Linked DNA regions of Homo sapiens: all the other regions are linked to region 1. Evidence: fine-mapped expression QTL. A gene starts in region 1. Each other region holds a variant in brackets. All regions are shown on one strand. Distances are from middle to middle.

Region 1 (7,651 bases):
ACTTCTGGTTGGCTTGAATATCTGGACCCACATAGGCTGGTTTCCCCTGCAGTACCCAATTTGATGAGCTCTTTGGATGAACCAGAAATACAATTTTAATGGATAACATGTTCAAGACCATCACTTGTCCATCATCAGAGAGGAATAACAGAACAATACAGTATTTGCTGAACAACTTTCAATGAAAGGTACACTTCCAATGATTATTTGGTCTACAATTTTACTTTCAGGACATCCCGTTCCTGCTTTTCTAAACAATAGGTATTTTGTCCCAAAGCAGGTCCAATTTGCCATCATGATAAAGTAGTCATGTGTCACTTAACCGTGGAGATGCACTCTGAGAAATGCATCATTTGATGATTTTTGTCGTTGCGTAATCATCATAGAGTGCACTTACACAAACCTAGATGGTATAGCCTACCACACACCTAGGCGATATGAGATAGCCTACCATTCCAACCACCGTCATATATCCTGGCTACTGTTGACCAAAATGTGGTTATGCAGTACATGATTATATATGCCAAGTATTCCATTGAGATGGTTATTTCCTCCTTTCAGTATCCCAATAATGTCAATTCCCCTACAAATTCTACTCATCCTGCAAGATTAAACTCAAACATCACCAGTAGGCGGGGCTGGGTGGCTCATGCCTATAATCCCAGCACTTTGGGAGGCCGAGGCAGTTGTATCACTTGAGGTCAGGAGTTCAAGACCAGGCTGGCCAAGATGACAAAACCCTGTCTCCACTAAAAATACAAAAATTAGCCAAGCATGGTGGTGTGCGCCTGTAGTCCCAGCTACTCGGAAGGCTGAGGCAGGAGGACTGCTTGAACCTGGGAGGTGGAGGCTGCAGTGAGCCGAGATCGTGCCATGGCACTCCAGCCTGGATGACAAAGTGAGACTCCATCTCAAAAAAACATACCTTTAGTGAGAGGCCTTCCCCTGATGCCTCAGGAAGAACCTTTATTTTAGCTTCTACAGAACTTTGTAAACTCTTCACCCCACTATAACCATCACCACTTTGTTTGATGTTAGTTTGGGAAAATGTCTGCCTCTACAGGTAGGGCGGACCCCAATGCCAGCCCTTTACCACACAGAGAAAGGTTTATGAATGTTCAATAAATCAATTAATCAACATCTCACAGCTTCCCACCACACACACAATCCCCAGCACACACACAGATAGTACTTGTAACATCTGCAAATCATGAGCAGAGCTAGAAACCATAAAGATGGGCAGAACCCTAGACCCTTTAGATACCTTCCTTCCAGAAACAAGTACCAGTGTACCCAGGACAGCCCTGAATGGCCTGATCCCGAGCCCTGAGTTCTCCAGTCCAAAATACGTCTGCCATCTTATTCAAAAGGCAAAGTCTTTTCAAGAGTGTCACAATGTGTCCGACAGCAAAGCACCTATAATTAAATAAATATTCCAAAGGAAACGTTTGACCCAAAATCTTCAGAAATGTTATTTGTATACTAGTCACATTTGTATCAACCCACCGTATTAGGTTAGGTACCCCAACTAATCCCCACCTCTGGAAGGGAAGTTACAGAGAATTTCATGCAATTCATGCAGTCTGGTCACACATATGATCCTCTCAGGGCTCAGGGTTAGCTTTTCAGTGACTTCATTCTTTCTCAGTTGCAATTGTGTTCAAATTGAGAAAGATTTCCATAGAAAAATACAAACACCCAACTTAGAGTAAGGCCAGGACTGTGGTTGGAAACCCCCTTGGACCCAATGTAGATCTTACTCTATGATGCTAATGATTGGACAACTGGAGTTCTGTCAACCTTGGGCATGAGCCAACTGATGGATTCTGGGGTGTGTGTGTGTGTGTGTGTGTGTGTGCGCCTGTGTACACAACCTAAGTGTCTGGTGAGTGCACGCACACACACACCCCAGAATCCATCAGTTGGCCCATGCCCAAGAGTAACACACCTTTCTTCTAGAGCTAAGAAAGACAGCTTATAAGGTGACCACCATCACTCGCTTAAGGCATGTAAAAGCAAATAAGCAGGTCCAAGCCTGCACGCAGACAGAACCAGTGGGGGTTTTGCTTTGGACTTAACCACCTGTTTAAATCTTGAGGAAACACGATTACAGAAGTCTCAATCAGAGCAAAGAGGTACCAAATGATAAGTATTGAACATCATGATAAATGGAAGAACTAAAAAGCCACAAGCCAAGCCCCTGGCTGTGGCTCTAAGGTGCTGACCGTGTTAGAAAGATGGAGCATTTCTTTTACAGAGCATCTGGAGAGATGGGAAAAGATGCCACAAAGATCAAAAAGAAACAGCACTTCCAAAGGGAAACCTTCCCTGGAGATGCTGTCCCAAGCTTTCAGTGCTGCCATTGTTGTCACTGTGCTAATATTTAAATCAGACAGAAGAAAGTGGTTTACATAAACCGGAGTCCCACACAGTCGGGCTCCTGGGCGGCCGGCTGCTGTTCTGGTTTGCCCACCTTGGCTAACCCCACTCCAGAATTACCCTATCACTAGTGGATACCCTATCACTAGTGGACACAAGTGACCCCATCTTTCTTTTAATTAATGGAAGAAGGAAAGTTTGAGTTTTAAATACATTCATTACTTTTGAGTCTCAAGGTAGGGACACTGCACAAATGTCTTCCTTCATTTTTAAACTGGTGCCGCCAATAAACTCGGCTTGACAGAAAGGCAGGAAGGAGAGGAAATCTCTGGGAATTCCATAAAGTCCCCTAAGCCCTCTCCTACCAGCTGGTGGGCCCCCTGAAACCTCAAGCGGGAGGGTCACTGCCAGAGCCGGCACAGGACCGGGGAGTTGAGCCCAGGGTGGGGCGTCGGGGCCAGGTGCTGGCTCCCGAGCTTTCCCATCCCTAGTCCCCTCTAGAGGGGGCGGCCGGGATGGGGGAACGGGACGGCGGCGGCTCCCGCCCCCGCTACTCACCCTCCTGCTGGGCGCCCCGGGCGTCCTGGCGGCGCCGCCCGAGAGCAGGGTGACCGTGGACGTGGAGCGCAGCATCCCGCAGCGGCGGTCGGTAGCGGGCTGGACGCCGGCGTTCCTCCCGGGCAGAATAAGCGTGCGGGGCCCGCCCTGCGCGGGGGCGACGCGGGACGGCGCCGGCTACTTGCAGCCTCAGCTGCACCGCGAAGGCCCGGGGGTGGGGCCGGGGGCGGGGCCGGGCCGGGCCGGGGCGGGGCCGAGCGCGCTCACCCGACCCGTCAGGCTGCATTTTCTCCCGAGGGCGCCGACCCGGTTAAAGTTGAGCACCATCCTCTCCCAGGGCGCTGCGCCCTCCCAGGGTCAGTCCCAGGGCAAGAAGGAGCCCTGGACAGCCTGGACGCCCATGCTCTCTCTGTCCCCCGCAGAGTTGAGATCCACCTGCCCATTCAGTCTCACGACCTACCCCCACCCCGGACTGCCCCCTACAGCCTCTGCACGCCCTCGTATCACTGGGACCCTCACCCCATGTCATTCATTCAGTATTTCCTGAATGCCTATTATGCGTCCCCACCAGCAGCCAACCCAGTCGACTGGCTGTTGGCCTCGGAGAGTTTGCAGTGTGGTGGGGATGACAGGTGCCGGGCTGTGGTAGAAGAGGAGATACCATGTACTAAGGGAGCACACAGCCAACCTCAGAGGAGGTGATGACTAAGCTAAGACCTGAAATGCAAGTAGGAGTGGGCCACACTGCCCATATTTATTCAATGATTACTGTGGGCCTGCCTGGCGAGCACTTTGCGTGTGTTACCTCATTTAATCCTCACCATTGCCCTTTGAGGGAGTCACTGTTGTTACCTTGTATCCCCATTTTGCAGATGAAGACGCTGACTCACCTAGGGATTGAGCAACACAGCAGGCGACCCACTGGCCTCTCAGTGGCAAAGGTAGGATATGAATCCCCCAGTCCGACCCTAGTGCCTTGCTTGTCCCCTCTGCTGTCCCCTAACAGAGGGAGGAGGGAGTCCCAGGTCAAAAGAACTAGCATGCACAAAGATGGAAGGAAAGCAAGGGAAGGTATAAAATATGTTTCAAGAATTGGAAGTATCACAGTGCAGTGGGAAAACAGTGGAGAAGCAGCGGAAGGGAGCTGAGGACATCATGAGGAACCTGTGTGCTTAGCTGGAAATTTGGCCTTTATCTTGAGGACAAAGTGTTTTTCAGCAGGGAAAGACACAATCTCTGTCTTCAAAGCCCAGGTCAAGCACTGCCTCCCCACGGAGCTCTCCAGAAACCCCTTCCCCAAACACGCATGCTCAGGAACTTAGCAGCTCCGCGGGACCCTGTCTTCTGTTAGAGTTATCTATGTGTGTGCCTGTACCCTGTCCTTCTGGAGGGCAGAGGCCAGGCCTTGACCCTCTCTGAATGCCCAATGGCACCAACAGGGAAGATGCTGAAAAAAAAATGTTGCTAAACAGAATTACAGATGATCCTGTGGAACTCACTCCTTTTGTAGATGAGGAAACTGAGGCCGGTGTATACAAGTGACTTTCCCAAAGTTGCACAGCCTGTTCTTCACCATCCTCATCGTCATCCTCACAGTAGCTGTGCTTGTGTCCTAAGTGCTTTATATGCATTTTCTCAACCAATTCTCACAATGCCCCACAAGGTGGGCTACAGTTATCGCCCCTGTTTTGCAAATGAGGAAACTGAGGCCAGAGACATTAGGTTAATTGGTGAACAGCTGAGACTACACATCTAGTCTTCTAACCCAAGTCCTTCTGCTTTTCTGCTACACTCCTCTCTGCATCCTCCCATCCACCTATCCCTTCCAAAAAGAAAATTGTTCATGACAGGTTCCTTCCCATTCCACTTCCACGAAGCCCTCTAATCTACCCAAGTCTTTTTCATATTGTTAACATCCTATTCACACGGTGTTATATTTCTTTACAAAAGCAGCAGACAGCTCACTAGCTTGTGAGCTCTGTGTAGAAGCTGGATCTTGTTTACATCTCTGCCTGTCCAATATCTAGAGCAGGTAATTGACGTGTGGTAGTGCAAGTAAATGTGGAAAGAATGAAGAAATGTTATTACAGAGTAAGATTTCAACTCACTCATGGTCATGAAAAACAGAAACTAAGATCCTTGCCAACCCAGCTCCTAGGGTGGGCCAGGGACTCCAAGCAATTTGGCAGCTGAAGCAACAAGAGCCCCAGGGTTGTCCCAGCCAGGCCATTTCCCCAAAGCTGGCTGACAATCGCCAAGGGCTGTGGGTGGTGTGTCCAGGCAGATGCCAGGCCCTGGCTTATGCCACAGCTCCTCCCTAATAGGCCAGCACTAGGAATCTGAGGTCATAAGGAACTGCAAGAGAGAGGAGAGTGGGGAGCCCAGAAAGTGGGAAAGAAGGAAAATGGGAAGACAAGTAGGACTGAAATCAATGGAAAAGTGGATCTAGAGTGGAGAGGAAAAAGTAAAAAATGAAGTCACAGTCACTGGTTTCCATTAATATTTCTGAGAGAAGATGATTTTTAAAAAAAGATGGACTCTTTTCAAAAGAGGAATCAAAAGCTGAGAACTTCTGCCCAGTCAGCAGTCCTCTGGAGTCTACAGAACTGAGAGTGGGGAAGAGGGCCAATGGGAGGGGAACAGGGATAAGGGTCTGGTGTAGAAGTTCTCCACATTCCCTTGCAACATGACTCATCTACTCCAGACCCTCTGAGCATTGGTGATGAAGGGGTTGCTAGTGTTTGGGCTGGAGAGAACGGGAGCTATGACAAAACTGTCTTAGCTGTCATCCTTTTCTATCCACAGAAATAGCCACATAGGCCTAAGAGCAGTCCTGAATTTCTCTGCTAAAGCACAGGTGTGTAGAAAATTCCAGATGTCTGTATAAGCACCCTTCATTTTCTTGTAATCAGTTACTGAATTTTACCTCCTTCTCCCATCCCAGTTCCTAGAATTATCTTTCATATCCTCTAGGTCTCTGCTTCTGAATTGTCTTTGTTGCTTTCTGCTAAACTCTTTCCAAATTCCATTGGCATCTTTAGTTGAGAGGCTTATGATAGGACCCTTTTCTCCAGCAAAGTCCTGAGCAGCAATGACTCATTATTTCTTGCACAAATGATCAAGAGTTAAATCACTGGACAAGAGCACACAGTAGATGAACCCAAGCAATTCTGGCCCTCCTGATATTTCATGCCCTCTTCACTCTTATATCTCTGAAGCTTCTCTTTCTTTCTCTCCCATTCAGCTGCGACAGCATCCCGAAGTCCTGGCATATTCTCCCATTCTGCATGCCAAACAGACCAAACTTTCACAATAGAAAAAGGACACATTTCCAACCAAGGACAAGGGTAATACATTACAAAGCCCCTTTGGATAAAGTAGAACAAGAAACACCCCATATTCACAGGTTGTCCGAGAAACAGGGAATGGGGCCTAGAGATAAGAAAGGCAGGCTGAAAGGAACCCAAAACCCCAGCCAAGTCATCCAGATACACAGCAGTTATAGGCCTGTCTAGACACAAGGGCTGGAACCACTTGCTGATCCACCCTGGGGAATACAAGCTCATTGGAAATCATTCTGTTGTCTCGCCAGTTAACCCAGTGAACCAACAGGCAACTGGCAGAGTAATAATAAGCCAATTCATGGAACAAATATGTACCAAGCACCTACTGTGTACTGAGCACTGGGGACTGAGGTGAGTAAGACAGCCCCTGTCTTCTAGGAGTTCACAATCAAACCAGGAAGAGAGATGTGCACTTAGCAAATAAAATGACAGCTAACACTTTTATATGGCACTTACTGAGTTCACAAAGCTTAAAATGCATCAACACATTTAACTGTCGCAGCAACTCAGTGAGGAAAGTAGTATTATGTCCCTTACTTTGCAGATGAGAAAATGGAGCGGCAGGGAGGTTAAGTAACTTGCCCTTGGTTCCAGCACTAGTAAGTGGTTAAGCTAAGCTTCAACCCCAGGCAAGATGGCTCCAACATCTGCATACTTGACAATTCACCTCCTCTACTGGGATAGGGGCCAGATTTGAGGTGTGTCCAGAGCACTTATGGTAGGCAGGAGGGAAGCTGCTTGGGCAGAGAACAGTGAAGGCTTCCCTGGGAAGGTGGCATAGGAGTTGTTGGACACGAAGAATGAGGAGGAAAAGGTAAGCGCATTCCAGACAGAGGAGCTGGAAGAAATAGTGGGTCGGGGGATGTGGGAAATGCATGTTAGCCAGTTCTGCTTGAACTTCAGGGCAGGAGGGAATGGCCAGAGACAAGTAGGGTGGGGTTAGATTGCAAATGGACTTGAATAAAATTGAGACTTAATAGCAGATTATGAGCTCTTAAAGTTTTGCAATTAGTGCAGTGATATGATCAGATTTGTATGAAGAAAGATGGCAGGCAGCAAAGAAAGGAGTAAGGATGGCAGACAGAGCCTGGAAGGCAAGTACTTTGGAGTGCACTGGAAGTGTGGCCATGACGTAAAGAGGCTCTGCACTAGGGCAGTCGGTGGCAGTGGAATAGAAAGGAGGGGATGGATTCAAAAGGCAGAAAATCCACAGAACTTCATGACCAACCAAAAGCTGGAGGATTTTTGTAGGCCACCCCAGTGAATAGTCGACAAATACCTCTACAGATCCTGAGGGATGGGGAATCAGCTAAGAAAATGAATGAAATAAAGGATGAGTGATTTCTTTCTCAGCCTTGGGACTTCACCCA
Region 2 (7,651 bases), 36 kb before region 1:
AACATACCCTGAGTTCCTGAAGCTTTTTTTTTTTTTCCCAATTTGGGGAGTAAAATAGGAGGAGTAGGAGAAACCTTTTTAACTCCACTGTCAGGATGAAAACAAGCATCAGTCTCTAAAACAGGCAACTGTGGGCTGGAGTTAAAGGCCTGGACTCCAGGGAAGCAGCCAGATTGCCAAGCAGCCTAATGATGTCCCCAGATGCCTGGTGACAGGCCACCTCTGGAACCAACAGGACTGAACAGGACACACACATAGAGTAGACACTCAATAAATATTTGTGGACTGAATGATTGAATAAATCCCCTAAGCTGAAAAAAATTACTTAAATCAGTAATTTCAGGCTTTTTTAGCAACATAAACTTTTTTCACCCCCCAAGTAACTCTTACTGAGAAAGTAACTCTTACACGGAAAAGAAGAGCTGCCCTATTAGAAGTGAACATACAGAGGAGATGATCTGTCCCATGGCTGTGGCAGGCCAAGTGAACTGGCAGCAGATCCCCAGGGCGGCAATACAGAGACCGGGCGGTGGACCGGCAGCCCCTCTTCCCCACCCAGCCTACCCCTGTGAAGGGGCCCACACTTCCCAGTTTGTCTCCCTAACTAAATTACCAATAGTACCACCTTTCACTCCCTCACATATTCTGCTTTGAGCAATAAACTATGTGGATACGCTACTCATAAGATAGCCTAAGTCTGTGCTGAGCAAAATTTTCAAACCACAGACTTACATAAAAAGGAATTCATCCAAGATATAATTTATTAAGTGCCCTCCAGGAGCCATTCATGGATCTGCTCCTGTCACCGGGTAGGAAGTCTATCCACAGTTTAAATTTGGGAGGGGCACTAATGCCTCTAGGGCATTAGAAGTTCAGCTAAGGAATGCTCCCAGCCTAGGGGGCCAAATGGGACATTCCCCAGTGTCCCTAGTCACCCACCAATTTTCTTCTTGAGAATATTGTACTTGGGGTACAGCCCAAGTACCAGCTATTTGTGTGCCCCTCAGCTCTTTATTGTCAAGCCAAACAGAAAGGCCTTGGGACCTCAAAGAAAATCTAAACAGTGAAGGAAGAGATCTCCAAGGCTTCTGACGTCCCAGATCTGTGGGCATCCCAAGCGTCTTCTCAGTTACATAACAACAGCACCATGGTGAGTGTCTAAAGAGCCCTTGAAGGGACTGGAGGCCAAGAAAGGCATGCCCAATGGGGGCATTTATGGAGAAGCCCCAAACTGGGCCAAGCACGGTGGCTCACGCCTGTCATCCCAGCACTTTGGGAGGCCAAGGCAGGCGGATCACCTGAGGTCAGGAGTTCGAGACCAGCCTGGCCAACATGGTGAAACCCCTTCTCTACTAAAAATACAAAAATTACTGGGCAAGGTGGCACGTGCCTGTAATTCCAGCTACTCAGGAGGCTGAGGCACGAGAATTGCTTGAACCCAGGAGGCGGAGGTTGCAGTGAGCCATGATTGTACCACTGCACTCCAGCCTGGGTGACAGAGTGAGACTCTGTCTCAAAAAAAAAAAAAAATCCAATGAAGAAGAGAATGGAGAAAAGGAAATGGAAAGGTTGAAGATGGGAAGAGAAAAGGGAGAAGTAAAGAGGAGAAAAGTTCATAGAAAATAAATCTAGGCTTTTATACTCCACCTTCATTTTTAGCAGCTGGTTTTCAACTTGCGCTACCTCCAACTGCCTCTGCTTTTCCCTCAGCTTGTCCATGGATGCTTCATACGTCTGCTGCAGATTTCTGATTTGATCCTTAATGTTGCTGTTTTCCAAAGTCACATCCACGAGGGTTTTCTGTGAGGATGAAAATAAAAACAAAACCAGATCCGGTGGCGTGAAAACACATGGGCTGCACCACATGCTGGGGCATCCCCTTATCATTAAGCACTGGGGTAGCTGTCCTAGGCTACAGCAACTGCCAGTCTGGGACCCTGTGCTGTGAGGGACTGTGGGTCTCCCATGGTGGCCAAGAGGTCTGCCCCTGTAGCTTGGAGGGACTGAAAACCTCTCCCATACCATCCCATAGCTGCTGCCAACACCACTTGCCACTGCTTAGGATGGATGGAAATGGATTAAAATGGAGTCCTTCCAAGGAAAAGTATTATAATACATCATTTCACATGGGAAAAAAAACAGCTTTTGAAAATAGTAAGTATAGTATAATCCCATTTTGAAAAATATGTATAAGCATTGGTTCAAATATATGTTTATGCACTGGGGGGAAAAAGACCAGGAGGAAATCTGAATGATAGTTTTCACTATGTGATAGGGCTATGGGTATCTATTTTCTTATTTATTTTTTCTGTATTTCCCAAATTGCCACAATGAAATCAGAAAACAAAATACGAGCTTTATAGAATAGAGATATTCCTCTTTTTATTCTTTTTCTTTTTTTTTTTTTTTTTTTGTTTTTGAGACAGAGCCTTACTCTGTCGCCCAGACTGGAGTGCAGTGGCACGATCTC[G/A]GCTCACTGCAACCTCTGCCTCCCAGGTTCAAGCGATTCTCCTGCCTCAGCCTCCCGAGTAGCTGGGACTACAGGCGCCTGCCACCACGCCTGGCTAATTTTTGTATTTTTAGTGGAGATGGGGTTTCACCGTATTGGCCAGGCTGGTCTCGAACTCCTGACCTCGTGATCCACCTGACTCGGCCTCCCAAAGTGCTGGGATTACAGGCGTGAGCCACCACGCCCGGCCTCCCTTTTTTCTTAAAAGAGCTATCCCTTCTGCGCTTCTAGACTGCCTGCCAGGATAGTGACAATGTGACTGAGAATACTCACATACCTGCAAACATTTCACCTTCCTCCCTTAGGCAGAGAAGGGTAGTAATAAAGAAGTACTAAGGAACAGAATTTGGTAATGCAGACAAGTGATTTTTGCTCCAAGCCGCACAAGTAATTTTTGCTCCAGGCCGCACTGAAGCAAGGATGTTTAAATCAATAGTGTTGGCCATGCGTGATGGCTCATGACTGTAATCCCAGCACTTTGGGAGGCTGAGGTGGGAGGAGCACCTGAGCCTGGAGTTCAAGACTAGCCTGGGCAACTACAAAAAAAATTTAAAAACCAGCTAGACATGGTTGTGTGTACCTGTAGCCCCAGCTACCCAGGAGGCTGAGGCATGAGGATCACTTGAGCCTAGGAGGTCAAGGCTGCAGTGAACTATATCACACTGCTGCACTCCAGCCTGCGCAACAGAGCAAGACCCCATCTCTAAAAAAATAATAAAAAAGAAAAAGAAAAAAATGGTGGTGCTATTTACTGCTTTGGTTTCTACTTGGTTAACTCTCCTTAGAGATAAATGGCCTCCACAGAATCTGTGCCGTTGGAAAGTCATCTTCTACTGTGTCCCCAGTCATCTACAATTTCACATTAGAAGATGTGAAAACCCTGGTGTTGGGCACTGTTTCTAACACCTCTGTGCTCTTGTCTAGATGATCAGTCTCTGAAGCTTCCTCAATTCCTCAGCCTCTACTTTGGACAATATAAGCCTTTCACTCCTAAACCTACTTGAATCAAGAAAAAGAATTTCTGAAGGAGGTGATTAGATACTAAAGAAAATACTGAAGCTATTTGGAAGCATGGAGTCACAGAACATTTGAGCTTCAAGGGGCTTTAGAAACCACCTAGACCAGCCACCCACTCCCCCAGCCCCACTGGCTTCACAGATTCTACTCGTGTATCCACACAAAAACCTACACTCTGGTCCAAGAGACCAGGATTTTTCTAATCCTGGCTCTGTCACTAGGTAGGCATCTTGCTCATGTCATTTCTCTCTGTCGGCCTCAGTTTGTCTATTCATAAAACTGAGATCCTCTCAGTTCTTTCTAGCTCTGACATTCTATGGAATCAAACCAAGGGTCTGGTCTCCCTGTCAATAATAATGAAAGTGGACAGAGTGGGCCAGTGGAAGAGGCTGGGGTCTTGCATAAGGAAGAAGCCAGCTCTCTTCAGACTCGGTCCACCAGGTACTCGAGTGGTCCTCAGCATCAGTGCCTAACACCGTGCATCAGCCCTCTTCCTCTACCAGGTTGAGTTTCCTGCTGTGAGATGGCTTCTCCTTCTCCTTCTCCTCCTCCTCCTCCTCCCCCTTCCCCTCCCCTCCCCCTCCCCCTCCCCCTCCCTCTCCCTCTCTCTTTGTCTCTCTCTTTCTGTTTCTCTCAGCGGTTTTAGCTATAAGGCTCCTTTGGCTGTCCAGGACTAAGAGCCTGCATGATAACTAGGAATCAGTCAAGGTGCCTGGGTCAGAGCTGGCCCAGCTCAAACAGCTGACCTCTGCAGTAAATGCCAGAGTGTTGGCCAGATGGCAAAGCACAAGAATTGCCAGAAAATACTGGCAAATATATTTTTCTTTCTGGGAAGAAAAACCAGAGATGTAGTACAAATACCGACTAAGTCTGAACTCAGGTGAGATAAAGCCCTTGCTGGTGGGCTGGGAATGAGACAGCGTCCGAAAGGGGAGGAAAGGGAGCCTTGGCAAGCCCCCCCGACCACAGGAGGAAGGGAAAACAAAGGCTGCTGAGCAAACCAGACCCAGTGGGGCTTGGCCTGAGGCCAGGGGAAAGCTGGCATACACTCAAGAGAGCCAGGAAAAGGGTGGGACTCAGAAGCCCCACCAGAAATGGGCATCGCAGATGACCCCAAACACGAGGCCACCCAGACCCACTCCAGGACAGTGGCCGAGCCCTGCTGTTGTCACTGCTGCCATACCAACTGTTATCAGAGAATTAGGGGAAGTGGAGAATCCCAACATGAAAATTTATTTATCTAAAATTACTTATATAGAACCAGAAAGGATTTGAAATAGGTTTTGGAACTTTTGAGAGGAGGATAAAAAGATAAGAGCCAAATAAATTTGGAGGAGAGGTAAAAACTGTTGTTCATACATTTGGAAATGAAGACCAAGGGAAGCTATTTCAAATACATACAATGCTTTGCTTTGAACATTTTCAAATTAATTTGCATGTTAGGGGACTTGTAAGAGTAAGAATGGGAAGCACTTGAAGGGTTAGCTCCTGTAAACCAAATCAACCAAGAAAACAATGCCTCAAAGTGAGATAACAACATGCATTTTCACAAATATAAGATACCGGGTCTTTCTGTTTCCCTGTCTGCTACTACAAGACGTGGAATATCCATGATTCTTTCTGATACAAAATAATTTCTAATTATAAAAAAGTGTTTACAGGCCTTTTTTATATTGCTTGCCATGAAGGAGTACAGATTGTCCTTAGTGAAGTCTGTGTTATTCTGTGATTAGGTGGCACTTCCTGTGGCACTGGGACTGGAGGAAGAGGGCTGACGTGTGGGGTTAGGCACTGATGCTGAGGACCACTCGGGTATCTGGTGAAGCAAGCAACATCTCTCACACTAAACTCGGGGTCTAAATTTCCTTTTCAGAGAGCAAAAACAAAGCCTTAGAGTCTCAGCTTGGAAATGCTTCCTTCAGTTTCCTACACTGTCTTCTGGGCACAGTCTTCACAGTGGTTCTGCTTAAAGAATTCTGAATCATGAGCTAAGGATGTTCTGTGACTTATTTTTCTGCAAAGGCACAGTCCCCACTCTTGATTAAGCTGGGTTGCCCTGTCATAGCAGTAAGCAGATGAGTACCTGCAGGCCAATGGAATCTGATGCCAAGGCTGAGTTCATGGCATTAAAACGATCCAGGGCAGACGACTGGGTTTGGATGTGATTCTCCAGATACTCCTGCTGAGCATGGGAAACCTGGACAGATCGAGGAGACAGTCACACAAAATCAATCCCTACACGTTCACGACAATCTTCAGTTAGGCTGGAACTTTCTTCTGTTAGAAGCCACATCTACTTCAACAATATCTAAAGTAAAGCTTTAAATTAAAAGTCAACATCTGCATGATCCAGAGAGAAGGGCAAGAATCACCTTCCTTTGGATAGTGTTTACTCACAGACCCTCATTTAGCCCTCTCAACAACACTGTGCAGGAGTCAGAATGTTGTCCTTTGTAAGGAAGAAAACAATCAGAGAAGTTATGTGATTTGCTCACTGTCAAACAGCTCAGAAGTGGCGCTCCTAGAACTAGAACCCAGTTGAAATAACTTCTGCAGCCACCTTGTTCTTTGTAGTCACCATGGAGAGAATATGCTTTGGTCTCACTCAATTCTCAAGAGTGTTTTTGTAATCCCAGCACTGTGGGAGGCCGAGGCGGTCGGATCACCTGAGGTCAAGAGTTCGAGACCAGCCTGGCCAACGTGGTGAAACTCCATCTCTACTAAAAATACAAAAATTAGCCAGGCATGGTGACGCACGCTTGTAATCCCAGCTTCGTGGAAGGCTGAGGCAGGCGAATCGCTTGAACCCCGGAGGCTGAGGTTGCAGTGAGCCAAGGTTGCAGTGAGCTGAGATGGCGCCATTGCACTCCAGCCTGGGTGACAACAGCGAAACTCCGTCTCATTTAAAAAAAAAAAAAAAGAGTTGTTTTGTTGCTGCTGTTGTTGCTGCTGTCTTTGTTGGGTGTGTGTGTTTAACATGTCTGAGTCAGAAGCCATTCTTGACCTAGATATTGGTAAGAGGCTAGATACAGTTAGGACTGAGGGTGGAAGGCCCCCCATGTGGCCTCTGGGAGCAGCAGAAAGCAGCCCCGGCACAGCAGAGCAGGAGGTGCACTCTGGGGAGTGGAGACAGAATTGAAGCAGCAAGCCAGGCCCAGGAGCATGTGGCAGCTTTGTGTTCAGCAGTGTGTTTCAATAGCAATAATTTAGCAATCTTAATCTGGCTGCAGTAGGTAGGATGACTTGGAGAAGGAGGAGACCAGTAGGCAGAGAGACAGGGTTTCTGGGACAATTCTAGCATGAGAAAATGAGGGTGTGTAGGAGATGGTGATGGAAAGCGAGGAGCAGAGTCTTGTTTATGCATCTATTGCAAATCCAATTCTTTGGCTTTGATGACAGTCATTGGTGTCTGACAGTCATGGCAGAATGACTTTCCATAAGCAGGTGAGAATTTCACAAATGTCCTCCCACATGCCAGTGGGAATGGGCTGGGTAGATATGTTTATACAGCCCCATTCCTATAATCAAGGAAGGGGCTAGGTAGATAAATTTACATAGCCCCACTCCTATAATCAAGAAATGGGGTAGGGAGATATATTTACGTAGCCCCACTCCTATAATCAAGGTACTAGGTGTTACTTAAGCACTTAATCTCACAGCCCAGCCATAAATTGAACTCTGATGCATGACTGTTGTAACTGCCCTTCTTTCCCACAGATATTAACTCTTATGGAAGGTACGTCACATAGACAGGGACTTTTATCTTTGGGAATATTAATAATAAATTTTTTTAAATGTCTACAAGCATTAGCTTGGCTAAACTAGAAGAAGGTTATTTTTCTTAAATTTTTCAGTAGGTAATACACTCACATGGTGCAAACATTTCAAAAGTATAAAGTTACTTTTATATTTTTATAAAAAATTACCACCCTGCTCAGTTACCACCCTGCCTCCCAATTAGAAACAGTTGTTAGTTACTTTCTGGATTAACCTTTTAGTAACTTTTTGTGCACACACAGAACAATCCTGATATGTTTATCTTCTCTTCCTGTTCTATACAAATGGTAGCAATTTTTTCCTACATATTTTCTTGCATCTTGCTTTTTTTCACCGTCTACATCTTTC
Region 3 (7,651 bases), 45 kb before region 1:
AGAGAAATAGAAATGTTCAACTTACCCGTTTTCTCATTTAGAAAAAAGAGAATAGTAAACTATGCCCAAACAGTAAATGTATAGCTTGGTTTCCTGTTACAGAGACAGTTAGGAGAGAAAGGATGGTGGCAAAGGAAAAGGAAGAAGAAGCAGGAGTGGGAGAAGAGAACGAGGAAGGAGGGAGAAAAAAGAGAGAAACAGACAAGGAAAGGGAATGAAAGACACACCCAGAAAACGATAAAGGACAAGAATGGTAGCTGAGAGAGAGAGAGAGAGACAGACAGACGGCTGTGGAGGCAGTGCAGGGACCTGGGCTAAATTCACCCTGCCCATCACCCCCTTGGGTCCCCTGAGCTGTGGGTACCCACTCAGGCTATCACTGTCCTTTCACAGTGGGTGAGCTTATGAACTGCACTTTCCAGCTTTCTTAACTGTAACCCTTTGACCTGAGGAAACCCCTCTTTTAGGGGCATCATCGTCATCAGTCCATGGGGGACATGTGGGGAAATCCCACTCTGGGCCTAGATGGCAGTGGCCTGAGCACCTCGGCTTGTGAGCCACAGGAAATGGAGGGGCAAGGCAGACTTGTTCTGGGGATGCTTCCCCACCACAGGAAGCAATCCCAGGCCTGTGACCTTTTGCAGATGCTTACCTCCTCGACCATCTGCTTGACTTTCTTCTGCTGGCAATGCACCATGTCATCTAGGTGTCTGATCCGCTCACGGAGGCTGGCTGATGCCTCCTCCAACTGCTGATACCTAACACAAATAGGAGAAAAAAGCAAATGAGTCCTAAACCAAAGCAGCAACAGCAGTAGCAACAGTCACAGCTTTAAAGAATATTGCCAAGAGCGCCAAGCATGGCGGCTCATGCCTGTAATCCCAACACTTCAAGAGGCCAAGGCAGGAGGACTGCTTGAGGCCAGGAGTTTGAGACCAGCCTGGGCAATATGCTGAGACCCTCATCTCCACAAAAAAAAAAAATAAATAAATAAAAATAGAAAACATGTATCTTTTGGGGAAGGTTTGGTAAAAAAATAAACGTAAATTTAAAAACATTTAAAAATGCTTCCAAGAACAAGAAATCAAACTCTAAGATCCATTCTTCTTACTTTATGTGATGACCACACAAAGTAGTGTGATTACTAACAAACTACCACAACAGAGGAGCACAGGACTATTTTTCAAGTTCCCATTTGCAAGTTTTATCCCATATAAGGATGATTATTTTCCAGGGGCTGAGAGATAATTTTTTTGCACCATTTACAGATCTGAGAAGCTCTCTGTTTTGGGGTTATTAACATATTGGAACATCCAGTAAATTACTTGGAGGGGAGGACGGGGAAGAAGGGGTCCAGCAACACAATAAAATATCTGAAATCAACGGCAGAATACCAAAAGGTCTGGAATCACAGTTGCTCTACATATCCTTTATTTTTGGCAAATGTGGGACAAGTTGAAAGACCTTCTCTACATCCAAACAGAGCAAGCCACATCACAAAACATTTCATACTTTTGTTTTACAACAGCACAATTTATTCTCCAACATTGCTTGGACTCTTCAGTTCTCTGGGGCCGCTGGGGCTGGGCACTGGAGGAAAGGTCTGGTGGTCTAGTTCCCGTGCCCCATCTCTGCCTCAGCACTATGTTAATGACTAGCAAGCCTCCTGTAACTTTGAAAACTCTGAAATTGCAAATGAGGAAGGAAAAATGGGTATTTTTTCAGCACGTACTATTTGGCAGGCAGCAAGCCCAATAGTTCTCTTAACAACAGTAACCTAGTGAGATGGGCACTGTTATCACCGTCATACCCGTCTCCCCCGTTTAAAGATGAATTTCCATGTGGCACAAGCAAGACTCAGGGAGGTTAAGTCACTTGCCCAAAACACTCAAATCATCTCAACCTTGTTTTCCTTCACTAGAGACCCCTGAATGGCCTCTCTGCATTTTGATTTCTAGAACAGACAGCGTACTATTCCGTGTTTTTCATGTAGGGCTTTATATACTCACTGCCAGAGGATAATGCAAGGTTTTACTAAGCAAAGTTTGGAAACAAAGAAAGATGTTTTAAATTGGTTTCCAAAGCAAGTGGTATTAGTCACAGCTGATGAGTTTTCTCATCAACAAGGTGTATCCTGTGGAGTTCAAGGCCATGGAGAACATTAATAGACCAAACTTTTGCACTTGTGAAAGTATTTGATGTGTTCCACTACACTAACAACCAGCCATGATCTGCAGGATGTGGCTGGAGGCTTCCAAAGAAACTTGTTCCATATTGGAAACTCTCAGCCCAATGTTATGTATGCTTAAGTCTGTAATAAGGTACAACCACACAAATGAAAATGTAAGGGTCAAATGAGGTCATAAAAACACAGCGTGTCCACAACCTAAATCCATTACAAGACGAAAGGCATTACGTCTTACCTTTCCTTGTCAGAATCAGTTAACTCCCCAGACATTTCTGTTTCATGTTCTAGGAGTTGAAGTTGCAGTTGATGACGTTCCTAAAACAAACAGAAACTGATATTTTAATCAATGGATCCCAAGTTTGACAGAGAATGTCTATTTAGCAATTCTAGCACTAGGGAGTCCAAGTCTATATGACACCCCCTGGGTTTTACACACCTGCTCAGCAAAGCCCAAACAAGGCTCAAAACTGCCAAGTCTGTTGTTGTGTATTTATAGATATATTTATGGGTCAGAGACAAAACATCCTAAATAAAACCATTCAAGATTCATTTTCCAAAGTATTCCATCAGCCCAGGATCAGTGAAAATTTATAGCCCCAAATACTGATTATCAATACTTTAAACTGGTGGCTTGTGATACTGCAAAATTCTTTATTATTTTCTGAATCATCAAGAAAAGAGGCTCTGGGATTCTGGCAATATCCTATATTCTAACTTGTGGTGTTTACACAGGTGTATTCACTTGTAAAAATATGTTGTGGTCAGATTCATGGCCCTCCAAAGATGTCCATGTCCTGATTCCTGAATCCTATGTGTTATCTTACATGGAGAAAGGAATTCTGCAGATGTGATTAAGTTAAAGATCTTAAAATGGGGAGATCCTGGGTTATCCAGTTGGGCCCTTCTAAGGAGGAGGAGGCAGCAGGGTTAGAATCAGAGAGAAGGAGCCTGGAAGATGCTCTGCTACTGCCTCTGAAGCTGCAGGAGGGGGCCACAAGTTGAGGAGTACAGGTGGCCTCCAGAAGTTAGAGAAGGCAGGGAAATGCATTCCCTTCTAGAGCTTCCAAAAGGAATCCAGCTCTGCCAACACCTGGATTTTAGCACTTCTGACCTCTAGGAATGGAACATAATACATTTGTGTTGTTTTAAGCCACTAACCTTGTGGAAATTTGCTATGGTAGCAATAGGAAACATACGCGCACTAAGCCGTGCACTTTGTACACTTTGCTATATATATGTATATTTAGAAGTTTGCCCAAAAAAGAGTCTGGAATCATTTCTTTGGACAAAGCTGAAAAATGTTCATAAAAACATGGTGCCTGTCATAACCGAAATTGTGCTAAAAATACATTACAGATGTTAGTGTAACAAATTTCCTTAAAATGCAAGTTTATCAAATAACGCTCACTAATTGGGAGATTATTTTACTTTAGGTCCTTCTCTAAGAACTAATGTTCCTCATCTTTATGTTCGGAAATTCCACCCAGCAAACTCTTACTAGCTACATAGATTCCAAACCTCTTTTCTACCAAATTATTAAAAGCAAATCTTTGAAAATTTAACTGCCACAACTTCTGAAGCTATAAGCAGTGGTATACCAAGAGGTAGGCCAAAGGGGTGGGGAAGCAGTCCACCTTAAGCAGGAAGAATATATTATCTCTGAAATATTTAAAATAACAAAGGTAGATCAACTTTGACTGGGGTTTTGTTACTGTTTTTAAATCTCTACAGCAAATGCACATTCTTATGGCCTGGCCTGAGCAGAACATTCCTCCTGCCCCTATGTGGTTGGAAGTTTTACATTAGCCCCGAAATAACAGTGATAAAAGCTTTCACAAGTGAATGCCTCCCTCCAAAAAGAAAAAAAAAACAAAAAACAAGAAAGAAAAAGGCTGTCATAAAGTAGAGCAAGGTCTAACTTACAGCACACTTTTAAAATTTGTTTTAAATTGAGGTACAATAAATCTTAAGTGTACACTGCACAATTATTTCTTACATTTGTAAACACCTGTGAAACCACTGCCCAGATTATGGCATAGACTATTATCTGTTCCCCAGAAGGGTCCCTGGTAGAGAACACTCCTTAAAAGATTTTTACTGATCAGAAAAAAAGGTGTTTGAAATACAGTGCTCAGCAAGAGAAACAGTAAACTAAGGCATATGGCAGAGAAGCCATTCAAAAGCACATGGTTTGTCCTTGAGCAAAATCCAAAACTGAGAGCAGGATACGTACACTGCCACAGCCCTGCCTAGGACATGCCGTTCACGTAGTGTGAGACAGCGATTTGGCCAGATTCCTGCTCTCACAGATTTATCCCTGAAAAGGAAACAGTGTAAATTGGCCTACCTAATGTTAGTTCAATAAATAGAGCATTTCTCTAGCCTAAATGGAAAGGAAGATTTAGAGAAAGGACAATACATTTCCAATCACTAAAGAAGAAGCCAACACCACTTGGGGAAGGTTTTGTGTTTCCTAAATGCTGGCAGGGAGGGCTGGCCTTACCAGCTTCCTGGCTCTACCCATTCATCCCACATGAGGGCTCCATGTGAAAATCAGTGGGGAAAGACAAGAAACTTTCAGAACCTCAAGACAGCAATGAAGATAAGCATAAAATGGGTCGTGCTAAAGACAACCTGACTCTGAGGGTAGACATTTAGGCAACCTCGTAACAGAGTAAAAATCATAGCCACAAATGATCGAACCCTTACTATATACGAGGAACCATGCTTAGCACTTGGCGTGGATTTTTCTCATTTATTGCTCACAAAAGCCCTAAGAATAAGAAGTACCATTATCAGCATTTTACAGAAGTGGAGACTGAGTTAGGAAAAACCAAGTAAGTGCAAACAACTACAAAGAGACACAAGATTCAAATCCCCAGACTGTCTGATTCTAAAGCCTATGTTCATGACCACTACCTGTGGTTTCTCTGTATGACGGCATCTCCCCCAGACCACCCTGCTATGCTGCCGGCTCACCTTGCTTCTTTACGCTGCAGAAAAACCTGCTGCCCAGAGAGAGAGCATCTGAGTTAACTGGGATCTTCTGCTGTTGTAGGAGGACAATAATGTGGGAGGAAGCTCACTCAAGCTCTAGAAAGCTCCCTTGTTGCCCAATCTTCACCACCACCCCCTCTGGTCAATACTAATGTTAGTCCTGACTAAGCCAATCACCTACTCTTCAATAAAAGATGGGATTCTGTTTTCCCAGGGGGTAGAAGGGAGATTGTAATTGACTCTTTAGTTTGCCCAAGTCTCTCCCAAGTAAAAAGCTAAAGAGCTAAAACGAAGCACCCAGTGAGCTCTGAAGCTCCACAGAACTGAATTTCATGCAGTTCCCATAGTGGCGACACCTCGCCTTATGAGGGGACAGTACAGGGGCTTATGCTGCAAACACCATTAGCTAAGGCGACCTCTTCTCAGCATCACATGAAGCCTGACAGTGACCTTGCTCTTGCTGCCCCACCTCTGCCTCCATCATCAGATTGGAGATTCTTGGCATCCCGAATGAGTCACAGGGTGCTAATAATGTCAGGGTCTTGGCAGGTCACTGCTCTCTGCAAACTCATATGCAGCCAGGGAGCCATTCCCAGAAA[C/G]CAGCCACAGACTTGGCCCTGAACTCCTGGGTCCAGAAGTCAGCCGTCACCTGCTAAAGGTCACCCATCCTTTCTCTTCCTTCTCTTCCTTCTTTTCCTCTTTCCTTTCTCCCACCACTTCCTCCCCTTCCTCCACTTCCTACTTAATTCCTGGCCTCTTCCCTTTCACTAGACAGGCTTCATTATCCCAGCTGAGCTCCCGCCTTCCTCAGGTTCCCCCACCACACTCACCAGCCTGCTTACAACACCTAGAGAAATGGGGCCTCCCTACTCTCTCAAGTCCCCAGCGTGTCAAGGAAAAGCCAACCCTTGAGACACATGCCCCAGAAACAACAGGGCTGCTGTGTTGATGTAACACCTAAATAGGGCTTGATAATTCAATGGATAAACTAAGTTCACACCTGGGGCACCAGCAAAGCAAGGCTGCTAAAATATTAATTTTTCTAAAGAATTTCACAAGTAATATTTTTTAAAAGCATCAAAATAGTTATCATGGGAAAAATGAGAACGTTGTTGGACTTCCTTATACTTTATTTTATAGCTTTGTCTTTTTTTTTTTAATTGCAAATTTTGGAGGTGAGAGGAATCCATATCCAGGGCCTCTCGTATCTCAGATGGACCTACAGGGAAAAGTTTGGGCAAGTGGGCAATAGGCCCAACGCTGTGTCCTACCTTTTCCATGCGCTCAATCAGCCTGTCCAGCTCCCCGATCCTCTGGTCTTTCTCCTCTAGGCTGATCTCTGCTGCTTGCATCTTTTTATTGGCTTCTTCAATCGCTTTCAGAAAACTATTGGTTTCTTCCTGCAAAAGAAATATACCCTCCTAAGTACAGGCATGGAGTACCGAGGCTACTCACCGGGATCCAATCAGCTCAGGCCTTGCTAGATCACGATTTCTCTTTAAAACATGACCTTGGAACCTGAAAGTGTCTCACAGATCATGAACTCAACCTCACGGTTCTGGTTCTCACCTATGAATAAAGATACATCATGTGGCTGGTTAATGGGCCTCACTACATTTTTTTCCCTTTTTTCCCTTAAGTCTTTATATCCAAAAGGTGTAAAAGAGGCCTACAAATGTTTAATAACATTGAGTAGATGCTCAGAATGTCACTGTATTTGCCAGAAGTGTAAGGGAATTAGAACCAGATCTGGAATTGAATGCAGAATTCCCAGATCCTTCTCCCATAATGCAATACATCAGCTCATTACTAACAAGAAAACCCAGTCAATCATCAGAACATGTATTAAGCCTCTACGGACACAGATGAGCCAGACATGGAGTCCCCGCCTTCAGGAACTTATAATCTCCTGGAAAAGCCAAGATGTGAGACGCACAGCCCCACTCTAATGGCAGGTATAAAAGAATTCCAAAGTAAAAGCAGAGAGAGAGTGAGTGAGCTTCCTAAGGACAGATAATGGTTCTGGCTCCATGACTGGAAGAGACTCCAGGCATGGAGAGAGTGGCATTTAAGGCTTTTAGGGAGCTTAGGCAAGATCAAAGATAGGGAAGGAGGAAATTTCAGGTAGAGAGAACCAAATGGAGGGAGGGAGGGCACAGCTGCGGGCAAGCCCAGGGTTTGCTTAGATGCTGGCAAATTGTCAGATGAGCTAGAAAAAGGTGTGTATTTAGAGACAGAGACAAGGGGCTATTCTGAGTAGAGACGGGGATGAATAAAGGCAGAGGGGAAGAGGGGAGGGGAGTGAATGAGCAGATGAATAATTCCTTGATCCCTTACCCATGGCTGAGTCTACTGACCCACCTCTAAGAATAAACACTACTACGTATACATCACCAACAATAATGAACCAACAATTCCCGGTAAGTTTACATCGGCAGCTACAACACACACACCAAAAGAGCCTCC
Region 4 (7,651 bases), 21 kb after region 1:
CGTATTACAAGTTTACTGGGGTCCTGCCATGGAGGACCTAAGGCCTCTGTGGGCCTCTGTCCTGTCTACTCCACATTCAGAGCCCTGGCTCTCTTCCTGTGAGTCCCAAGCTGCCCATCAAGTCTTCTCTGATCCCCAGTTGGAACACATGCTCCTTCTGCATTCCCACCCCTGTTACTGCATCCCAGGCTTCACCGTTAAGCTCCTACTTCCTTCTGTCCTCGCTTTCATTGGAAAGCTGATTGGATAGCCAGCTTCCTCACTTAGTTGTGGGTAAGGACAATATTAATCACCTTTTATTTTCTCAGGTTTCTCCCCACACATCTCCTTCCCTGTGCCTACGAAGTAGTAGGTGCTCAAATGTGTTGACTGAAGGAAGGACAAGATGAAAGGAGAAAAGGAGTGAAGGAGGAAGCAAAGAAAGGACGCTTCAGCCACTTAGTTAAAGTATAAGATAACATCTAGTGTAATTCAATTCTAGACCAGACTGCCTGCAGGAGAACCTCACCAAGAGGAGCCAGCCAGCAAGGGAATTGCAGCCTGCATGGTGCAGACAAAACAGCCCCGGAATGGCATCTTTTTCAGGGAAATCAAAAGGTCTTAAGCAGCGAGCTCCCATCATTCAGATCCTGAATGCTCTAAGGGGATCATACAACTGCAATTCACTTCTGCATATGCATCTATTACGGTGTTCACATCTGAGTGCAGCACAGAAACAGTCTTTTTTTGTTGTGTTTTTGTTTGTTTGTTTTGAGATGGGGTCTCACTCTGTCGCCCAGGCAGGAGTGCAGTGGCTCAATCACGGCTCACTGCAGCCTCAACCACCTCAGGCTCAGATGATCCTTCTGCCTCAGACTCCCAAGTAGCTGGGACTACAGGCACACATCACCACACCTGACTAATTTTTGTATGCTTTGAAGAGATGGGGTTTCACCATGTTGCCCAGGCTGGTCTCAAACTCCTGAGCTCAAGCGATCTGCCTCCCTTGGCCTCCCAAAGTGCTGGGGTTACAGGTGTGAGCCGCCACACCTGGCCCAGAAACAGTCTTTAAGAGGGATGTGGATATTCAAGAATTGAAATTTAGAGACTCAGAAAATGGACCTAATGACAAACAAATGTTTTTTGAGAGCCTAACTGTTTCCAGATGCTCCACTGGACACTGGGAATCCAATGGTCAGCAAAATAAGCACGGACCATACACATGTGGAGTTTGTAGATTATTGAGTCAACAGCACACATCAGAAATTGACTCAAAAAAATTAAAATCTAAAGGCAAATAAATGTTAAGCAATTATTTTGAGAGGCAAAATTGAGATAATAGAATAAGGTTTGGATTCAGACCAGAATTGGGTTCAAATGCTGATTTTGCAACATTTAATGAAAAGAAGACAAAATTATACACACACATGGTTTTAAAAGTCCAGTGGTTCTACAAGTTTATAATGAAAATTAGCACCCTCTTGCCCCTTGATCCCCATTGCGTAGTCACAGCCACTTTTAACTCTTTAAGCTATTTCTTCTGGTATTTATCATCATATATTTCAATTACACACTTATATGGCCATATCTGGATTTTGTTTAAATTTTAGATCCCATCTAGTGACTCTCCATGTGGAAACTGAGGTTTTGGTCTCTTAAATCTTCCTCCCACATGCCCCCTCATTCTTCAAATACAGCTATATCGTAATTTTGTTTAAATCAATAATCACGGCTTATGCTCTATGACCGCGTGATCATCAGTCACAGGCCATGAAGTGCATTTTATAGTAATATTTTCTTTCGTATACAACTTTTTGTTTTTCCTGAAGCTAACAACTATCACCTTTTCTCCACTTATTTAGCTTTTTATGTATTAATACTTATCACTAAGTCATCACTAGCTTTCCTTCAAAAGTGACAGTGTGTCACATGACCAAACTCATCCGGTCATATGTCAACAGCATTTTTTTTCTGGAGACAGCCTCCACCTCCACTTCCCGGAAGAGCTCTCTAAACTCCTGCTCCAGCCTGGACTGGTGGGGCTCCAGGCAGCCCCATGGTGCCATCCTGGGGCTTCGCTTGCCATCATCCAGGGTGTCCTCTGGGCATTATCTCCTGGGATGCGTTACCTGCTTCCTTTATCTCATGCTGTCCTTTTTTTTGGATAATTCCCTCATTTTGGAGGAATATACCCAAGGGTAAATAGGAATTAAGGATTTCAAGACATTGTATTTCTGAAACTGTCTTGATTGATAGTTTGGACATGTACAGGATTCTAGGGATAGAGAAGTAATTCTCTCTTAGAATTTGGAAGGCATTGCTGCACGGGTTTTGGCATCTAATGTTGCTTTTCTTGAGAAGTCTGATGCCATCCTGATTCCTGATCTTGCCTTGCCTCCCCCTACAGATTTTAGGGCCTTATCTTTGTCTCTGATGGTCTGAAGCTTCATAATTACAGTAGTGCCCCCTTATCCACAGTTTCCACAGTTTCTGTTACCTGTGGTCAACCACGGCTCAAAAATATTAAGTGAAAAATTCCAGAAATAAACAACTCATAATTTTTAAATTGCATGCCATTCTCAGTAGCGTGATGAAATCTCAAGCTGTCCTACTTCATCCAGCCCAGGATATGAATCATGCCTTTGTCCAGCTCTATATGCTACCTGCTCGTTAGTCACCTAGTAGCCATCTCCATTATCAATTTAACTATTGCAACATCTCAGTGCTAGTGTTCAGGGAACCCTTATTTTACTTAGCAATGGTCCCAAAGCACAAGAGTAGTGATCCTGGCATATTGTTATAATTGTTCCATTTTATTATTGTTGTTGATCTCTTACTGTGTCTGATTTATAAATTAAACTTTATCACAGGTTTGTATGTATAGGAAAGAAAATGTTGTATATATAGGGTTTGGTACTCTCTTGGTTCATTTTGTGTTGCCATAATGTAATACCTCAGGTTGGTTAATTTATGAATAAAATAAGCCTGTTTGGCTCACGGTTCTGTAGGCTGTACAAGCATGGCACCAGCATCTGCTTCTGCTGAGGGCCTCAGGCTGCTTCCACTCATGACAGAAGGTGAAGGGGAGCCAGCATGTGCAGAGATCACACAGCGAAAGAGGAATCAAGAGAGAGGAGGGGAGGTGCCAGGCTGTTTTTCACAACCAGTTCAATTAGGAACTAATAGTGTAAGAACTCACTCACCCCCAAGAAAGGGCATTAATCTGTACATGGGTAATCTGTCCCCATGACCCAAACATCTCCCATAGGCTCCACCTCCAGCATTGGGGATCAAATTTCAACATGAGGTTTGGCATGGTCAAACCTCCAAACTACAGCAGGTACTATCCGAGGTTTCAGGCCACCACTGGGGGTCTTGGGACACATTTCCCAGGGATAAGTGGGGGCTGGGCACATGCATTGTTGTGGGTGTTTTTCATGCATTGTGCTTGGCACTCTGTGGACCTTTTACATATCTATAGATTCACGTCTTTCAGAAATGGAGAAATTTCTTGAATTGCGTCCTTCTCCCTTCCATATTCTCTGTTCCTAGTCTATGGAACTCCTTGGACTGATCCTCTAATTTTATTATGTTTTCTCTCCTGTTTTTCACCTCATTTATGTTATTACTCAACTTTCTGGATAATTACTTCAATTAACCTCATTTTCTAACCATTAAATTTAGTTTTTCTTTCTGCTCTCAACTTTGAAGTTCCAAGGATCATTTTGGTTCTCTGCTATGCTAACCTCTTGTGCTTGTCTATGTAATCTCTGAAGATGAATCAATCACAGGACTTTGTTGTTGTTGCTATGGTACAGGTTTCTTGCTGCTGCCCAGATTGCTTGTTTCATCCCTAGTTCCTTGTTTTGTTTTGTTTGTTTTTGTTTTTGTTTTTGTCTATGTCTTTGATATTAAGGACTTCTCTCAAATG[C/T]CTGATGACCCTTGACTGTTCGCTCATATTTCAGAGTGAGGCACCCAATAGTTGATGGGGTGACATTCATCAACTATAGAATTCACCAGAGGGTAAACCACTGAGCAGTTTCACCAAGGTACTCCCAACCCTCAACATCTTTTAAATTCTATGCCTGAGCTGCCAGACATCTTCCCTAGAAAGGAATCCTCGAGGCTCCTGCTTGGAAGAGATCAACCTGGCTGCCAGTGCTCTTGGAGCTGGGCCTGGGGAGGAGGCCAGTGGTGTCACCACTCAGCACATATACTCACTCAATCCCCCATGTGGCATGGTACCCTGTCCTCAGCTATGCTGCTGCCCAAAGCTGGCAGCTCCAGAGAAGAAATATCTAGTCTTCTAGCAGCAGGAGGGAGAGGATCTAGGGACATTGAAATATTTAATATACAAACTTTCAACAAATCCTATTTTTAGCTCCACCTGTGCCCATTTTCAGAGGACTCTGCCTACTTCAAACTTCACCCCCAACCACATAGGCTGTGCCATTTTCTGGTCTGTTAAATTGACACTTTGCCCTCTCCTTCCGGCTTCCCAGATGCCATTGCTCTTGCTTACTCTCCTATTCTCTTTTATCATTCTTGTATTATCAAGTTAAAAAATCCCTTCAGTGTCATTTTCATGGGGTTTCAGGAAGGAACAGTACTACCCAAGCATGTCAACCTGCCCTGTTTAACCAAAAGTCTAACTATGCCATCTCGCTGAGCTAGTTCATGTCTCAAGGCCTTTTCTTCCTCATCTGGAAAAGGCTGAAAAAAAAATACATACGTTATAGGGCTGTTTTGAGAATAAAATAAAGTAATGCTTGTAAAGCACTATGTATGGTTTCTGGCACATAATATGTGCTCAATACATAATGGCTATTATTCTCAGTTACCAGATCCACTCTAGCATGCAGAGTGGAATTTTTTTTTTCTGCATTGCATGCAAAATGACAGACAATGCAGCAAAAAAAATTCAGATTATACTGAAGTAGAACTTCCAAAATTCATAAAAAATAGACAGTGGAAGTAATTCTTAGTCAAAGATGTCATCTTTCTATAGCCATAAAATTTTAAGACTCTAATGAACAGTCACAGTTTGGGTTAGTTTAGACATAGTCCTCCCTGGGACTAGATGAGATGACCTCTGAAATCACAAAGAAGCAATTCATCTCTGATGAATAAATATCACAGGGAAATGGAGCAATGGTAATAAGCCCATCATTCCCAGGTATTTGAATTGCTTTATTTTCCAGGCTGGTTGCTCATTGGAATATTAGAATTTCCTATGAGTGATATAACACAGCACAGGAAACAGGCAGGTGGACTGTACCAGAAAGTGGTGTCGTATAGTATTGCAAGGATATATTTGCACTGGAGCTGGGAAATTAATTTGAATTTAAACAAGAAATAACCAGCCCTTAGACCACAAGCCTTCATGAACCAGGATTCTGAGCTGCTCAGGCTTAGAAAACACACAGCTCTCCTGGGAGTTGAGTTTTGAAGGGGGTTCACGCACAGAATCTAGTTATCTTTTTTTTTTTTTCAGGGTGAGGTGACACACAATAAAATGTTAACACAGAGAATGCTTGGGAATTTATAAACTTTGGTGAGGAAGAGAGGTAGAAACATGGTTTCTCTAAGGAGCAGTCATGCTTGACATTTTCAGAGGAAACTGGCATACACATTGATGCTAATGTTGGGGGAAACAGTTGTGTGTGATTTATAGATGATGAAAAACATTTGACAAGAATCTTTTGCAAAGGCTATCCTTTTTAAGGAGTCATGGCTGTAAGGAATGTTCTCTCAGGCATAGAGAACGGGTTTACAGATAAGAAAGAACACTCATAAACAGCAACTGCCCTGTGGAAGAACTGTAACCCCAGGGCCTTCTAACTGCTGGGCCTACCATCAATTTTTCGCTTCTTTTAAAAACTTAGCGATTGCATGTTCACTATTTAGGAACACAAACTAGCAAAAAAAAAAAAAAAAAAGGAAAATTTCCTGAAAACCTGCCACCAATCTTAGCTTTTTCACAAACGATCTTTGTATAAGAAGAAAGATGTAGAAAAATCTTCTGGTTTGGACCGGGGGTGGTGGCTCACGCCTGTAATCGCAGCACTTCGGGAGGCTGAGGTGGGCGGATCACGAGGTCAGGAAATCAAGAACATCCTGGCTAACGCGGTGAAACCCTGTCTCTACTAAAAATACAAAAAAAAAACTAGCTGGGCGTGGTGGCAGACGCCTGTAGTCTCAGCTACTCGTGGGGCTGAGGCAGGAGAATGGCGTGAACCCGGGAGGCGGAGCTTGCAGTGAGCTGAGATCGCGCCACTGCACTCCAGCCTGGGCGACAGTGCGAGACTCCGTCTCAAAAAGAAAAGTCTTCTGGCTTGGACACCGTACTAAGTTCCTACAACGATGCCAAGCTTATGGCCTGCACACAGAGGGGGAGTCTTCTAAGACTAGCTTTGAGGGAGCCTCAAAAGCCATTTTGCTCTATCATAGCACCTGACATCTTCATCATTACTGATACATTTATACTAGGGAAATATTAGGACTCAGTGAGTCTCTTTAGGAAAAGCCAGCATCTTATTGGCCATTACACACCTTAGCAGCGGTTACATTGCTATACTAAGGCCAACACCTTGGAAAGCAGAGCATAAGGCTCTGGAGAAAAGGGAAGTAACACGGTGCTTTGCAAATTGCAAAGACCTGTACAAAGGGAATGTTGTTATTATTGGTCCAAAGCAATGGGATTCTGGGTAAAACTGTGATAGAGGCTCTGCACCAAAGACATCAGACTCATAGGTCAGCAATGCCAATAAAACTCGGATATCAGTACGAAAACTGTGGGTCACCAAACAGAGACAATTGTCTAAACAACATGTGCAGTCACGAGACATGCAGGCCTGGTATCCCTGCCAAGAGGGTGAGAGTTGTATGGAAAACTTCCTCTGCACTCTGGAATTGTGCCCTGTGGCTGTGACTGCCTGGCTTTTACAGACTTCATGGTAACTGCAATTAAAAATGCAACAAACCCTCATACATGACAGGTGGGATTGTAAAGTTATATAGTCACTTTGAAAGACAATTTGACAGTTCCTCAAAAGGTTAAACATCAAGGTACGTTATCACCCAGCAATTCCATGCCTGCAATGTACCTAAGAGTATTGAAAACATATGTTCAAACAAAAACTTGTACACAAATGATCACAGCGGCATTCTTCATAATAGCTAAGATGTGGAAACAACACAAATATCCATCAATTGATGGATGAAGAAACAAAATTTATATTTTGTTTGTGTTCTATTTATACAATGGAATACTATTCAGCCTTAAAAAATAATGAAGAGCTGATCCATGCTACAATATAGATGAACCTTGAAAACATTATGCTAAGTGAAAGAAGTCAGACATAAAATGCCACATATGATTCCATTTATATGAAATGTCCATAATAGGCAAATTCATAGAGATAGAAAGTAGATTAGTGGTGGCCAGGAGCTGGGGGATTTGGGTGGGGAGAATGAGAAGCTACAGTGGGTATGGGATTTCTCTTTGGGGTAATGAAAATGTTCTGAAATTAAACAGTGGTGATTGTTACACAACTCTGTGAACGTATTCAAAGCCCATGTATTCTACACTTTAAAAGAGTGAATAATATGGTATGTAAATTATGTTAATAAAGGTTTTTTATTGTTGTTGAGATGGAGTCTTGCTGTCACC

Direction of the effects. Positions count from the first base shown, and alleles are read on the strand shown. Sizes are in standard deviations (SD) of each study's normalised expression. Not every link is listed here.
As copies of C replace G in region 3, the expression in skeletal muscle of the gene that starts at base 3,143 in region 1 goes up (large effect, 0.79 SD a copy in GTEx).

Evidence for each region. PIP is the estimated chance that this variant, and not a neighbour inherited with it, causes the effect.
Region 2: its variant is fine-mapped to the expression of MYZAP in whole blood (INTERVAL, PIP above 0.99).
Region 3: its variant is fine-mapped to the expression of MYZAP in skeletal muscle (GTEx, PIP above 0.99). The same link has a PIP of 0.9 or more in adrenal gland.
Region 4: its variant is the best candidate, but not a certain one, in a credible set for the expression of MYZAP in whole blood (INTERVAL, PIP 0.81).

Annotation. Positions count from the first base shown.
Region 1 is chr15:57,587,396-57,595,046 of GRCh38, reverse strand. It overlaps MYZAP (myocardial zonula adherens protein), which reads right to left and starts at 3,143. Exons shown (of 13, transcript NM_001018100.5): 1 at 2,938-3,143. The coding sequence starts at 3,012. GCOM1 (GCOM1, MYZAP-POLR2M combined locus) reads right to left here and starts at 3,143. Exons shown (of 17, transcript NR_104371.3): 1 at 2,938-3,143. RefSeq lists a silencer at 3,145-3,254.
Region 2 is chr15:57,623,851-57,631,501 of GRCh38, reverse strand. It overlaps GCOM1 (GCOM1, MYZAP-POLR2M combined locus), which reads right to left. Exons shown (of 17, transcript NR_104371.3): 5 at 5,610-5,723; 6 at 1,648-1,800. MYZAP (myocardial zonula adherens protein) reads right to left here. Exons shown (of 13, transcript NM_001018100.5): 5 at 5,610-5,723; 6 at 1,648-1,800. Among named protein-coding and RNA genes, the nearest start is that of MYZAP, 36 kb to the right of the region's middle. The variant G/A (reference allele first, on the strand shown) is at 2,471.
Region 3 is chr15:57,632,547-57,640,197 of GRCh38, reverse strand. It overlaps GCOM1 (GCOM1, MYZAP-POLR2M combined locus), which reads right to left. Exons shown (of 17, transcript NR_104371.3): 7 at 7,639-7,651; 8 at 6,457-6,585; 9 at 2,424-2,503; 10 at 653-758. It overlaps MYZAP (myocardial zonula adherens protein), which reads right to left. Exons shown (of 13, transcript NM_001018100.5): 7 at 7,639-7,651; 8 at 6,457-6,585; 9 at 2,424-2,503; 10 at 653-758. Among named protein-coding and RNA genes, the nearest start is that of MYZAP, 44 kb to the right of the region's middle. The variant C/G (reference allele first, on the strand shown) is at 5,785.
Region 4 is chr15:57,566,183-57,573,833 of GRCh38, reverse strand. No RefSeq gene overlaps it. Among named protein-coding and RNA genes, the nearest start is that of GCOM1, 22 kb to the left of the region's middle. The variant C/T (reference allele first, on the strand shown) is at 3,911.